Homo sapiens: one gene and its partner. The protein of the gene in region 2 interacts with the protein of the main gene of each other region in a pairwise test. Each region holds a gene or a part of one and is shown on either strand. Other genes may lie near its edges.

The links. Proteins that work in one complex are often made in the same cells at the same time.
Region 1: the proteins of ZNF35 (region 2) and CWF19L2 interact in binary tests that used the Homo sapiens proteins (3 or more experiments, as listed by UniProt).

What each region holds. Positions count from the first base shown.
Region 1 is NC_000011.10:107,440,596-107,447,825, forward strand, and holds part of CWF19L2 (CWF19-like protein 2), read right to left. Parts: intron 2,455-7,230; coding exon 2,344-2,454; intron 1,028-2,343; coding exon 908-1,027; intron 1-907.
Region 2 is NC_000003.12:44,658,650-44,661,488, reverse strand, and holds the end of ZNF35 (zinc finger protein 35), read right to left. Parts: intron 2,789-2,839; coding exon 1,542-2,788; 3' UTR 698-1,541; downstream 1-697. UniProt on the Homo sapiens protein: May be involved in transcriptional regulation. Involved in cell differentiation and/or proliferation.

The sequences.
Region 1 (7,230 bases), on a different chromosome or scaffold from region 2:
AAAAAAGGCTAGAATTGCATACTGAGGACAATTGACAAGAGGCTAGACAAATTATGAGATACTATCTGAAAATGTATAAAAGACAAAGGATTGAAAACATAAATAACTTCTATAAATCAGTTAGAAAAAGACAAACAACCCTGGTAGAAAAGTAAGCAAAAAACATAAATGAGCAGCTCCCAGTACAAGAAATCTGAATGACCAAAAAACATGAAAAGACCTCTCTGGTAGCAATCAGATAAATGCGAACAAAAACAATGAAATACCATTTCTCACCCATTTATTAGGCTGATAAAAAAATATATAAAGTTTGACAATTACAGATACTGAGTACTGGAAAAGAAACATATGCTCCTGGTACAGTATAAATTGGAATTCCAGATTACCAGGATTGTGTGATGCCCCTAGGAAAGTCATCAGCTTCAGCACTTCCTTACTTCTCTGGATTCATGCTTTTGCCTCATTTTTTGGTCTCTACAGATTTCCTATTGCTTCCTTACTAGCAAAGTGACAACAATAAAGTATAAAATAAGCATGCTTATTTTACATTATATCCACCAGAATTTCTAGATGTCTTGAAATGGAAGTATTTTCATGGTGTCTAATTCAGTATGTACACTGAAACAAAAATTGAGTGAGTTCACTTTCAATTTAATGATATTAAACTCAATATTCACTCAACTTTATATATGCCCTAGATTTATAAATCTAGTAAACCTTTAAACTCACTTCCTATAGGAAATTTATTTTTCTTAAACTGATGTATTTCATAGTTGTTCTCACTAATTGTATTAAATACTATAAAAAATAAAATGGTATTTTACAAGTTAAACTGCATTTATATAAATGTCTTGTAAGTTTATTAAAGGTAAATTAGAAAGTTAAAGCATTTCAAATATTCTCTTACCTGTTCAAGCGCTTGGTTTTTCTCTTGCTCTATTTTCCTCATAGTTTCCTTTTCAGCTTTGAGTGATGATGATGACACAGTTTTAACAGACATAAAATCAACAGTCATCCACTCATCCCTCTGTTAAAAAAAAAGACATAAAATCAACAGTCATCCACTCATCATTTCAATCTGAACTGATTAGAATTTAATAAACACTTGGTAATAAGAGCAGGGACTTTGGAGGCAATCAAACCTGAAACAAGTCCTACATGGCTATATAACTTGAAGCAAGCTTCTAAATCTCTCTATACTTTAGTCTCTCCTCTATAAAATGGTATAAAATCCCTACCTTTCAGGATTGTTTTAAAGAGTAAACAAGATAACAGATCTAAAGCATCCAGCCCAAAGCCTGGCACACAACAAGCAATCAAACTTAGTTCCTGTTCACCTTTCTTCCTTCACCTGTGGCTAACAGTGGACAAATTACATTCTTCCTGAGGCAGATGAACTATAGCCCAAAATTTTTGAACTATTCAACTGTTAAGTATTGTTAAGAAAATTAAGGCATGAGGTGAAGGGAAAAAAAACTGTGATGGAACTCCACTCACTATAGAAGGGTCAGACAGAGATACAGTATAAGGCTTTAGGGACATAAGGGGAAAGTGCCACTTCTTATCAACAATCAAAAGCATGAAAGCCTCTAAGGAACGAGAATAGAGAGGAACACTCACTTTCTCACAGTAGAAGGGGAAGGGGGTTCTAAACATTCAGCAAACAGCAGTACTGCCAAAATTATTCCTAAAGTATATTGTTTTCAAAGTCTAATTGTTCTCCTGAAGAAATTTTAATCATCTTTCATTTTCATATTCATTTATTCTCAAAAGTTGATACTTTTTTCTTTAAAACCAAGTGATAGGCCAGGTGCAGTGGCTCACGTCTCTAATTCTAGCACTTTGGGAGGCTGAGGTGGAAGGATTGCTCAAGCTCAGGAGTTTGAGACCCAGTCTAGGCAACATAGGGAGACCCCAACTCTACACAAAATAAAAAAATTAGCCAGGCGTGGTGGGCACACAACTGTGGTCCCAGCTACCAGGGAGGTCGAGGTGGGAGGATTACTCGAGCTTGGGAGGTCGAGGGTGCAGAGAGCTCTGATTGTGCCACTGCGGCCCAGCCTGGGCAACAGAGTGAGACCCTGTCTCTAAAATGAATGAAAGAGAGAAAGAGAGAGAGAGAGAGAAAGAGAAAGAAAGAAAGGAAGGAAGGAAGGAAGGAAGGAAGGAAGGAAGGAAGGAAGGAAGGAAGGAAGGAAGGGAGGGAGGGAGGGAGGGAGGGAGGGGGAGGGAGGGAGAGAGGGACAGAGAGGGAGGGAGGGATAGAGAGGGAAGGAGGGAGGGAGGGAGGAAGGAAGGAAGGAAGGAAGAAAGCAAGGAAGGAAAATCAAGTGGCTTGCTTACCTTGATAATTTGGGTGTCATCTTTTCCTGACTTTTCATCTTTCACTTTCCAGGCTTTTTCCTTGTCAGGAGTCTGGGATGGAACAGCCTCAACCCACTCATCTTCAGAGCTCTAAGAACATTTAGCATATAAGTGAAATTGTCAAATTTGCATACTTTGATATAAAAATTCTGTGCTGTTAAGTGGTAGAAATTCAACATCGTAGAAAAAAATTCTTACACTGTATTTCCCCTTTACAAAATGGCAATGAAATTTTAAAGAGCTGGGTGTGGTGGCTCACACCTGTAATCTCAGCACTTTGGGAGGCTGAGGCAGGCATATTACTTGAGGTCAGGAGTACAAGACCAGCCTGGCAAACATGGTGAAACACCATCTCTACTAAAAATACAAAAAAGTTAGCCAAGCGTGGTGGCGCATGCCTGTAATCCCAGCTGCTCAGGAGGCTAAGGCAGGAGAATCGCTTGTACCCAGGAGGCAGAGGTTGCAGTGAGCTAAGATCACACCACTGCACTCCAACCTGGGCCACAGAGACTCCGTCTCAAAAAAAAAAATTTTTTTAAAGAAAAAACATATAAACCCACTAGTTTGAGTTAAGCCCACCAAACACAACCAAATTATTTTTATTTTCTCATCCATTTATTATCAAGCCAAGAGAAGGCAAAAAAACAAAAATGGGAACTGCCAAGTAGAGACCTCACTTCAGCACAGAGCTTCAGTGACTACCAACGTCAAGTAGTTACTCACATCTCTGCTTCACTAGAACAGGGGAAACACCACCCAGGTAAACGAATTTGCTGTTTGCCCCTAAGTTTCACATTTTGAGATTTCCCTTGATCTAAAACTGCAGATAACATTATCTTCTTCAACACCCTCCTGAAGCTTTATACCAATTCCCATATTCTCAGCAAATGATGTCTTCTTTTACCTCATCAAGAAAACTAGGGCCACCTTATCCTCCTACCCACCGCCCAAAACATTTATGGCTGTGCCTATCCTTATTTCCAGTTAACTCCTCCTATTTAAGGCAGATCTTGCTCTAAAGATTTTGATAACTCTTTCTGTTCCTCCAGGACCTTGCTCCATCAATTATCTTCTCCTCTCACGGCATTAACCAAAGATCCCTAATGGCCTAGAAACAATTTCAAGCATTTCCCACCCTTTTTTTTTTTTTTTTAAGGAGGGAAGGGGGACCTTCCTTGACCCCGTATATTCCTCCTCTAGCAGGAATTAATCTTCCGGCTTCCATTCTCAGATGAACTTCTTGAAAGAGTAGTCTACATGCACCGCCTTCACACTCTCACTTTCATACATTTTCTCAAAACTCTACAATACATCTACTGTCCCCATTAATCTACTGAAACTTCTCCAAACTCACCAGTGGCTTCCACTGTGCCGAACTCAACAAAACGTTTCAGTCTTCAGCTCTCTAGACCTCTCTGCTTAATGCAACTCTGTTGATAACTCACTTTCCTGGCTTCCATGACACCTCTCAGCTCTCCTCCCACTCTGTTTCTTCTCCATTTCCTTCATGAACTCTTCCTCCTTTGCTTAGCCCTTAAATATCTTGTTATTTGGGATTCCATTCTTTGCCCATGACATTTTTCAATGTCTAAACATTCCCTTTGGGCCATTAAATCCATTCTGATCGCCTGAACTACAATAAATTGTGCTGATATCTTTCAAATTTGTCTAACCAAAGTTTCACTGACTAATTGTCTACTGCAGTTGGATGGCATGCTAAACTCAGTAAGAACAGAAGATAAAGCTATCCTCTTCTTCTACAAAATCTACTTCTCCTTGTATAGTATTGAACTGAGTTATCTGGAACAACCAACCACCCACTTAAACCAAGTCAGAAACTCAGGATGATGTTACCTCACATATTCAAGCCTACCATTTTCATTTTTAAAATATTTATTAAATATACCATAGAGTGAATACATGATTACCATACGAGCCTACCTCTATCCCTGGCCACTACTGATTAGTTCAAACGTAGGTACCTGACCCAATTCACATCAACCTGAGCCATTCCACAGGAATCTGAAATCAGGTCTAAATGGGCTTATCTAAAACTAAGAAATGGGAAGGCATTGGGAGAGGCCATTTCTGTCATGAGAAATAGAAATCAGCAAAAATTTTTTAAAAACTAGAACTCAGGGTAGGGGAAATGAAAAATGGCAAGAAAATTGCAAAAACCATTCACAATTCTAATTCCAGCTATTCTTGAAGCCTAGCTGCATTCCTACATCTATATGTCTTATGAGAATTTTGTACTTTAATAATAAATCCTTTTTGCAAAATCCAATTTATATTTAGTTTCTGTTACCTGCAACCAAAATACCAACTAATATTCTCTTCTTTGATCCTTAAAGTAGCACCCCAGGCTGGGCGCGGTGGCTCACGCCTGTAATCCCAACACTTTGGGAGGCCGAGGCGGGTGGATCATGAGGTCAGGAGTTCGAGACCAGCCTGGCCAAGATGGTGAAACCCCATCTCTACTAAAAATACAAAAATTAGCCAGATGTGGTGGCGCATGCCTGTACTCCCACCTACTTGAGAGGCTGAGGAAGGAGAGTATCTTGAACCCGGGAGGCGGGGGTTGTGGTGAGCCAAGATCGTGCCATTGCACTCCAGCCTGGGGGACAAGAGCAAAACTCCGCCTTAAAAAAAAAAAAAAAGTAGTAGCCCTAGATCAGATCTTATCTCTCACCTAAACAACTGATTCCAGGAGACCTAATTAATCTCCTGGACTCATCTTTCCTGCTCCCCTTCTTTCTCCAACCCCTCACCCCAAATACATTTAGAGTAATATAAAGGGAACATCTGACCACCGTACTTCTCTTCTAGGGCTTCCCATTACAAAGACTGCTAGTTATCCCTCTTCTTTCCTACCAACAGAATCCCATTTTATTTGGAGAAGTAATGTACTTCCCATGCTAGAAAGTGAAGCCTTATGATCAAGTGTCCAATTAGATGTAAACAAAAGTATTTTATGGGACTTTCTGGAAGTCAAGTTAAGAAAAAAAAGAGCATCTTCTTTCCTGTTATCTGGACTAAGAGGCAATGCTGTAAGGATGATGGAAAAGCAAGACAATAGAAGCCTAGGTCCCAGAAGACCATACTAGCCCTAGACTGTCTACCTGACTTATTTCATATCAGAAAAAAATGAATTTCTATCTTGTATAATCAATGGCTATTCTGAGATTTTCTAATAAATGCAGCTGAACCCAATTAGATGATACATTCCCTACTGAATAAAGTCAAAGCTCTTGGTTTACAAGGCCCTATTAATTCTTACAGTTTCATCTCCATTCACCCCCTCCTCTTGTTTTATAATTTAGTACTATCAAATTGCTTATAGTTATATTTACATACATACACACATACTCACACTCATATTATCTCATACTTCCATGTCTCTGCTCTCGCAATTCCTTATGCATGAAATGCCAAGCACACCTTTATTTGCCTAATGCTTACTAATCTATCTAGTCTCAATTCAAGCATCATTTAATCAACAAGTTAGCAAATGAAATCCCTCTTAATACCCTGTACTACCATGGCATCATGTTGGATGGTATGCTAAACTCAGTAACAACAGAAAATAAAGCCAACATCTTCTTCTACAAAATCTACTACAAAATCATATTATTAATATTATGTATCTATTTATCCAATTAGGAAATGAGTTCCCCAAAGGTTTAAAAATATATTTTTATATTCCCCATGTCTAGAACAGTGTCTGGCAAAGAATAAGCATTTGATAAATGCAAGCTGAAATTAAATGAAATGTCTTTTTCTACTCTTTCAATAGCACTAGTCAGAAACTTTTAAGCAGCAACCTATACTCATTTTCACAATTATGCACTCACTCACCTTACCACTTCAGCAAAATTGATGCTCCCCATGCTACGACTTCAGTTCTCTTGCTAATTTTAGTTTCAATCTCCATTTTACCTTGAACTCATTAACTATCAAGCTTAATACGCCTCCTGACCTAACACAGCCTTCAGGGCTCTCCTTCTCTTGTGCAGCCTGCAGAATTAACCACACCTCTAATTCTATCTAGTGGTCAAAACCTAGAAGGTGGAACTAAGACAGAAAAGTGCTACCAGCAAAACTCAAGGGATCTTGAGGACTTCTGCTTCTGTCCTTGACAAAATAAATGGCATCAAACTAGAAATACATACAAATTGGAATAAAAATGAAACTACAATCTCTACAGCTTTTTATCTAAAGGCACTTTCTAGACTGTGGCATAGAGGGGTAACCCAAGCAGAACATGAAAATCTCACTGAGCAAAGGAAACGGAATTTGAACTTTGTGAAGGCTGAAACAAAAGTACAGATGGGAAGTTACACAGAGAAAGGGTGCCAGAAATCTACTTAAAGGACCCCTGGAGTCTTTAAAGAAAGACCAAGCTGAACATGCTGAGGATGAGAGTCCACAAGGTCAGGCAAAGAAAAATTACCATGGAGAAAACAATTACCAAAGAGCTGTAAGCAGAACAATCCCCAGAGCTCACAAAGGGCTGGAAGACATTCTAGTTCCTCCCAACCAGAATAAAGAAACCTCGCTGAACATCCATGACAATCAGCAGAGAACCCACAAAGGTCATGCCTTAGTAGAAAGGCTAAACCAGTCCTAGAGTAAAGCTATTCTAGGTGCATACGAACAAAACTTAAAAACAATCCTTGAAAAGGATTAAGCTAATTCACAAGTAATTAACTGTATGCCAAAAGGAAACTCAATACTCTCTGAAGAAGTCAACAAAATCCAGCAGTCACAATATAAGTTTCATAGGGTTCAGCATCCAATTAAAAGTTACTAGACATTCAAAGAAGCAAGCAAATGTGACCCATATTCAAGAGAAAAATCATTTAA
Region 2 (2,839 bases):
ATTTCTGGTCACAGTGCCTAAGGCACACTCCAAACATCTGTCACATCAGCTTCCTCACCTGAAAAATGGGACTACACACCCCTTTCTTTGTCTCCCCTACAGGTCTGCATGGGGATTACAGGTGTTTGGCAAGTGGCATGGCAGAACAGAGAATCTAGATTCAGGACCTGGACTTGGATATAAGCTGTCACTTGTTACTTGGCCTTGCACTAAATGACCATTCTCAGGTAAATGGGCAACCACCTGTTTCAGTGTTGTAAGGACTGAGGTAGGTGATCTATGTGAAAGCGTGAGATACGTGCCAGGTATCATGATCAATACATAAGGGTACACAACAAAGAATAAAAGTTCTATATAAATACAAGGCAATATTATTACATAACTCTACCTATTGCATAGTTTTATAAATCATTTTTCCAGGAGTAAAGGCTGAATGGTAACAAAGATATCTTACCTTGGCCAGTTTCTTCATCCTTCTAAAAGTTTTTCATATTCCAATACCTCTGAATTTCTCAAAAAATCAAATTAAGACCTTAGGAATCTTATTTCCACCTCCCCTCTCCCATCACTTTCCCTCTTTGGTCTTCTCAGAATGAGAAGAGCTCCACTATTTCTTCTAAACACCATCCAGAATGTGAGAATGAAACCCAAACTGAGACCCCTGGCTGGACTTGAGCAGAATGACAGCAGAGACAACTGGGGCATGCCTCTAGGCAAGCTTTATTCTTTGACTCCTTCATCCAGGAAGGGGCTGTTAGTTGCATCTCACCCAAATGGAATGCGATGGGAATTGGGGGCTTGAGTTGTTTGGAGAAGGAGCTGTTGATCTTGGCAAATGAATATAGCTGGTGTGTGGTGTCCATCAATCCTTGAGTGCTTGGCCATGGAGACTAGGGAATGGTCAGAACAGACCCAGAGGTCCCCAGATCTTTACAATACCAAGGTTCAGGAGGTATAGACAGTAAGGAAAAAGTCCATTTCCTATTTCTGTCCATTTTCAGTAAAGTTTTTGTTTTGACTGGCTTTTAAAAAATTACCTAGGAAATGGAAAGCTTATAAACATTCGTAAGTGAATTGTTGAACTGCTACCCCAAGTGGTTTCCTTACCCAGTCACCACTTAACCAGAAATATTAGAATACACGGTTCAACCAGAATTCAACCAGGCAGATAACCTGCCTGTTGCTCAAGCAATCATCAGAGTTTTAAAAAACAAAATTAAGCAAAAAAGACCTTTCCCCAAATAGCATCATTACCACTTAGCTTTGTACGACCCATTCCTAGGAAAGCCACATTCCACTTCAGAGAACATGACCGCTTAAGGTACAGTTAAAACAAAGTCCTTGCCTTTAGGTGCTTACTTTTTGTTTTAAATTAGCCTCTGAAATGCTTTTCTTGTGTCTTCTGCTGCATTCCTGAAAACTATAACTTTTAAGGACACAGCCCTCACTTTTATAGAGGAGGAAGAAAACAGCAAAGAGGTGTCTCATTAGGGAGGCAGAAGGTTATGACCAATGCTGGAGGTCTTCCTCTTCCTTACTTGTTATTCAACAAGATGGGTTCTATGGTGTCGCATGAGGTGTGAGTTGGAAATGAAAGCTGCACCACACTTCTCACATTCATAGGGCTTCTCCCCAGTGTGGGTTCTCTGGTGCACGGTGAGGCTCGACCTCTGTCTGAAGGCCTTCCCACACTCATTACATGTGTAAGGTTTTTCTCCATTATGAATTCTCTGATGAATAAGTAGGTATGAGCTACATGTGAAGGCCTTCCCACATTCATTACACACGTAAGGAAGATCTCCACTGTGAATTCTCTGGTGGACAATAAGGCAAGAGAGCTGACTGAAGGCTTTCCCACATTCGCTGCAGTCGTAAGGTTTCTCTGCAGTGTGAATTCTCTGGTGCACAATAAGGTGTGAAAAACAACTAAAGGCTTTCCCACACTCTTTACACTCATATGGCTTCTCACCAGTATGGCTTCGCTGATGTACAATAAGATTTGCACTCTGGGTAAAGGCTTTGCCACAGTCGTTACAGGCAAAGGGCTTCTCCCCAGTGTGGATCCTCTGGTGGACAATGAGGTTTGAGCTCCTAGTAAATGTTTTCCCACATTCATTACATTCATAGCATTTTTCCGTAATGTGGACTTTCTGGTGCCGAGCAAGTTGTGAGCTGTAACTAAAGGCTTTCTCACATTCATTGCACTTAAAAGTTTTTTCTAAGGAGTGGATTTTTTGATGTACAGTCAGATTTGAACTCTGAGTGAAGGCTTTCCCACATTTTGAGCAAACATAAGGTTTCTGTCCAGTGTGGATTCTCTGATGCACAACGAGGTTTGCACTCTGAATGAAGGCCTTCCCACACTCATGACATTCAAAGGGTTTCTCTCCAGTGTGGATTCGCTGATGCACAACGAGGTTTGCACTCTGACTAAATCCTTTCCCACACACGCTACACGTAAAAGGCTTTTGTCCAAGCTGGGTTTTTGGATTTTTAACAGCGCCAGAATTAAGGCTATATTTTCCTCCAGATTTCTTACATTTCTGGTTTTCCTCTTCTTTGAAGCTTTCAGGTAAGTGACAGTCATTCACTATCACTTGTCTGAAATCTTTCTTTTCTCTCTTTATTCTCTGCCTCTTTAACATGTTTCCCTTTTCACAAGCTTCTCCTAACTCAGGTCCTTGAGGATCAGCTTTCTGGATTCTTTCTGATATGATGAGGGGTTTTTCAGCTTCCTCACATATCTCAGTTTTTGGAACCAGTAACTGTAGGTTCTTGGTTTCAGCACCTGAACCAAGAAACAGAAAATACAAATGTTAGCTTTCTCTGGCCTAGAAAA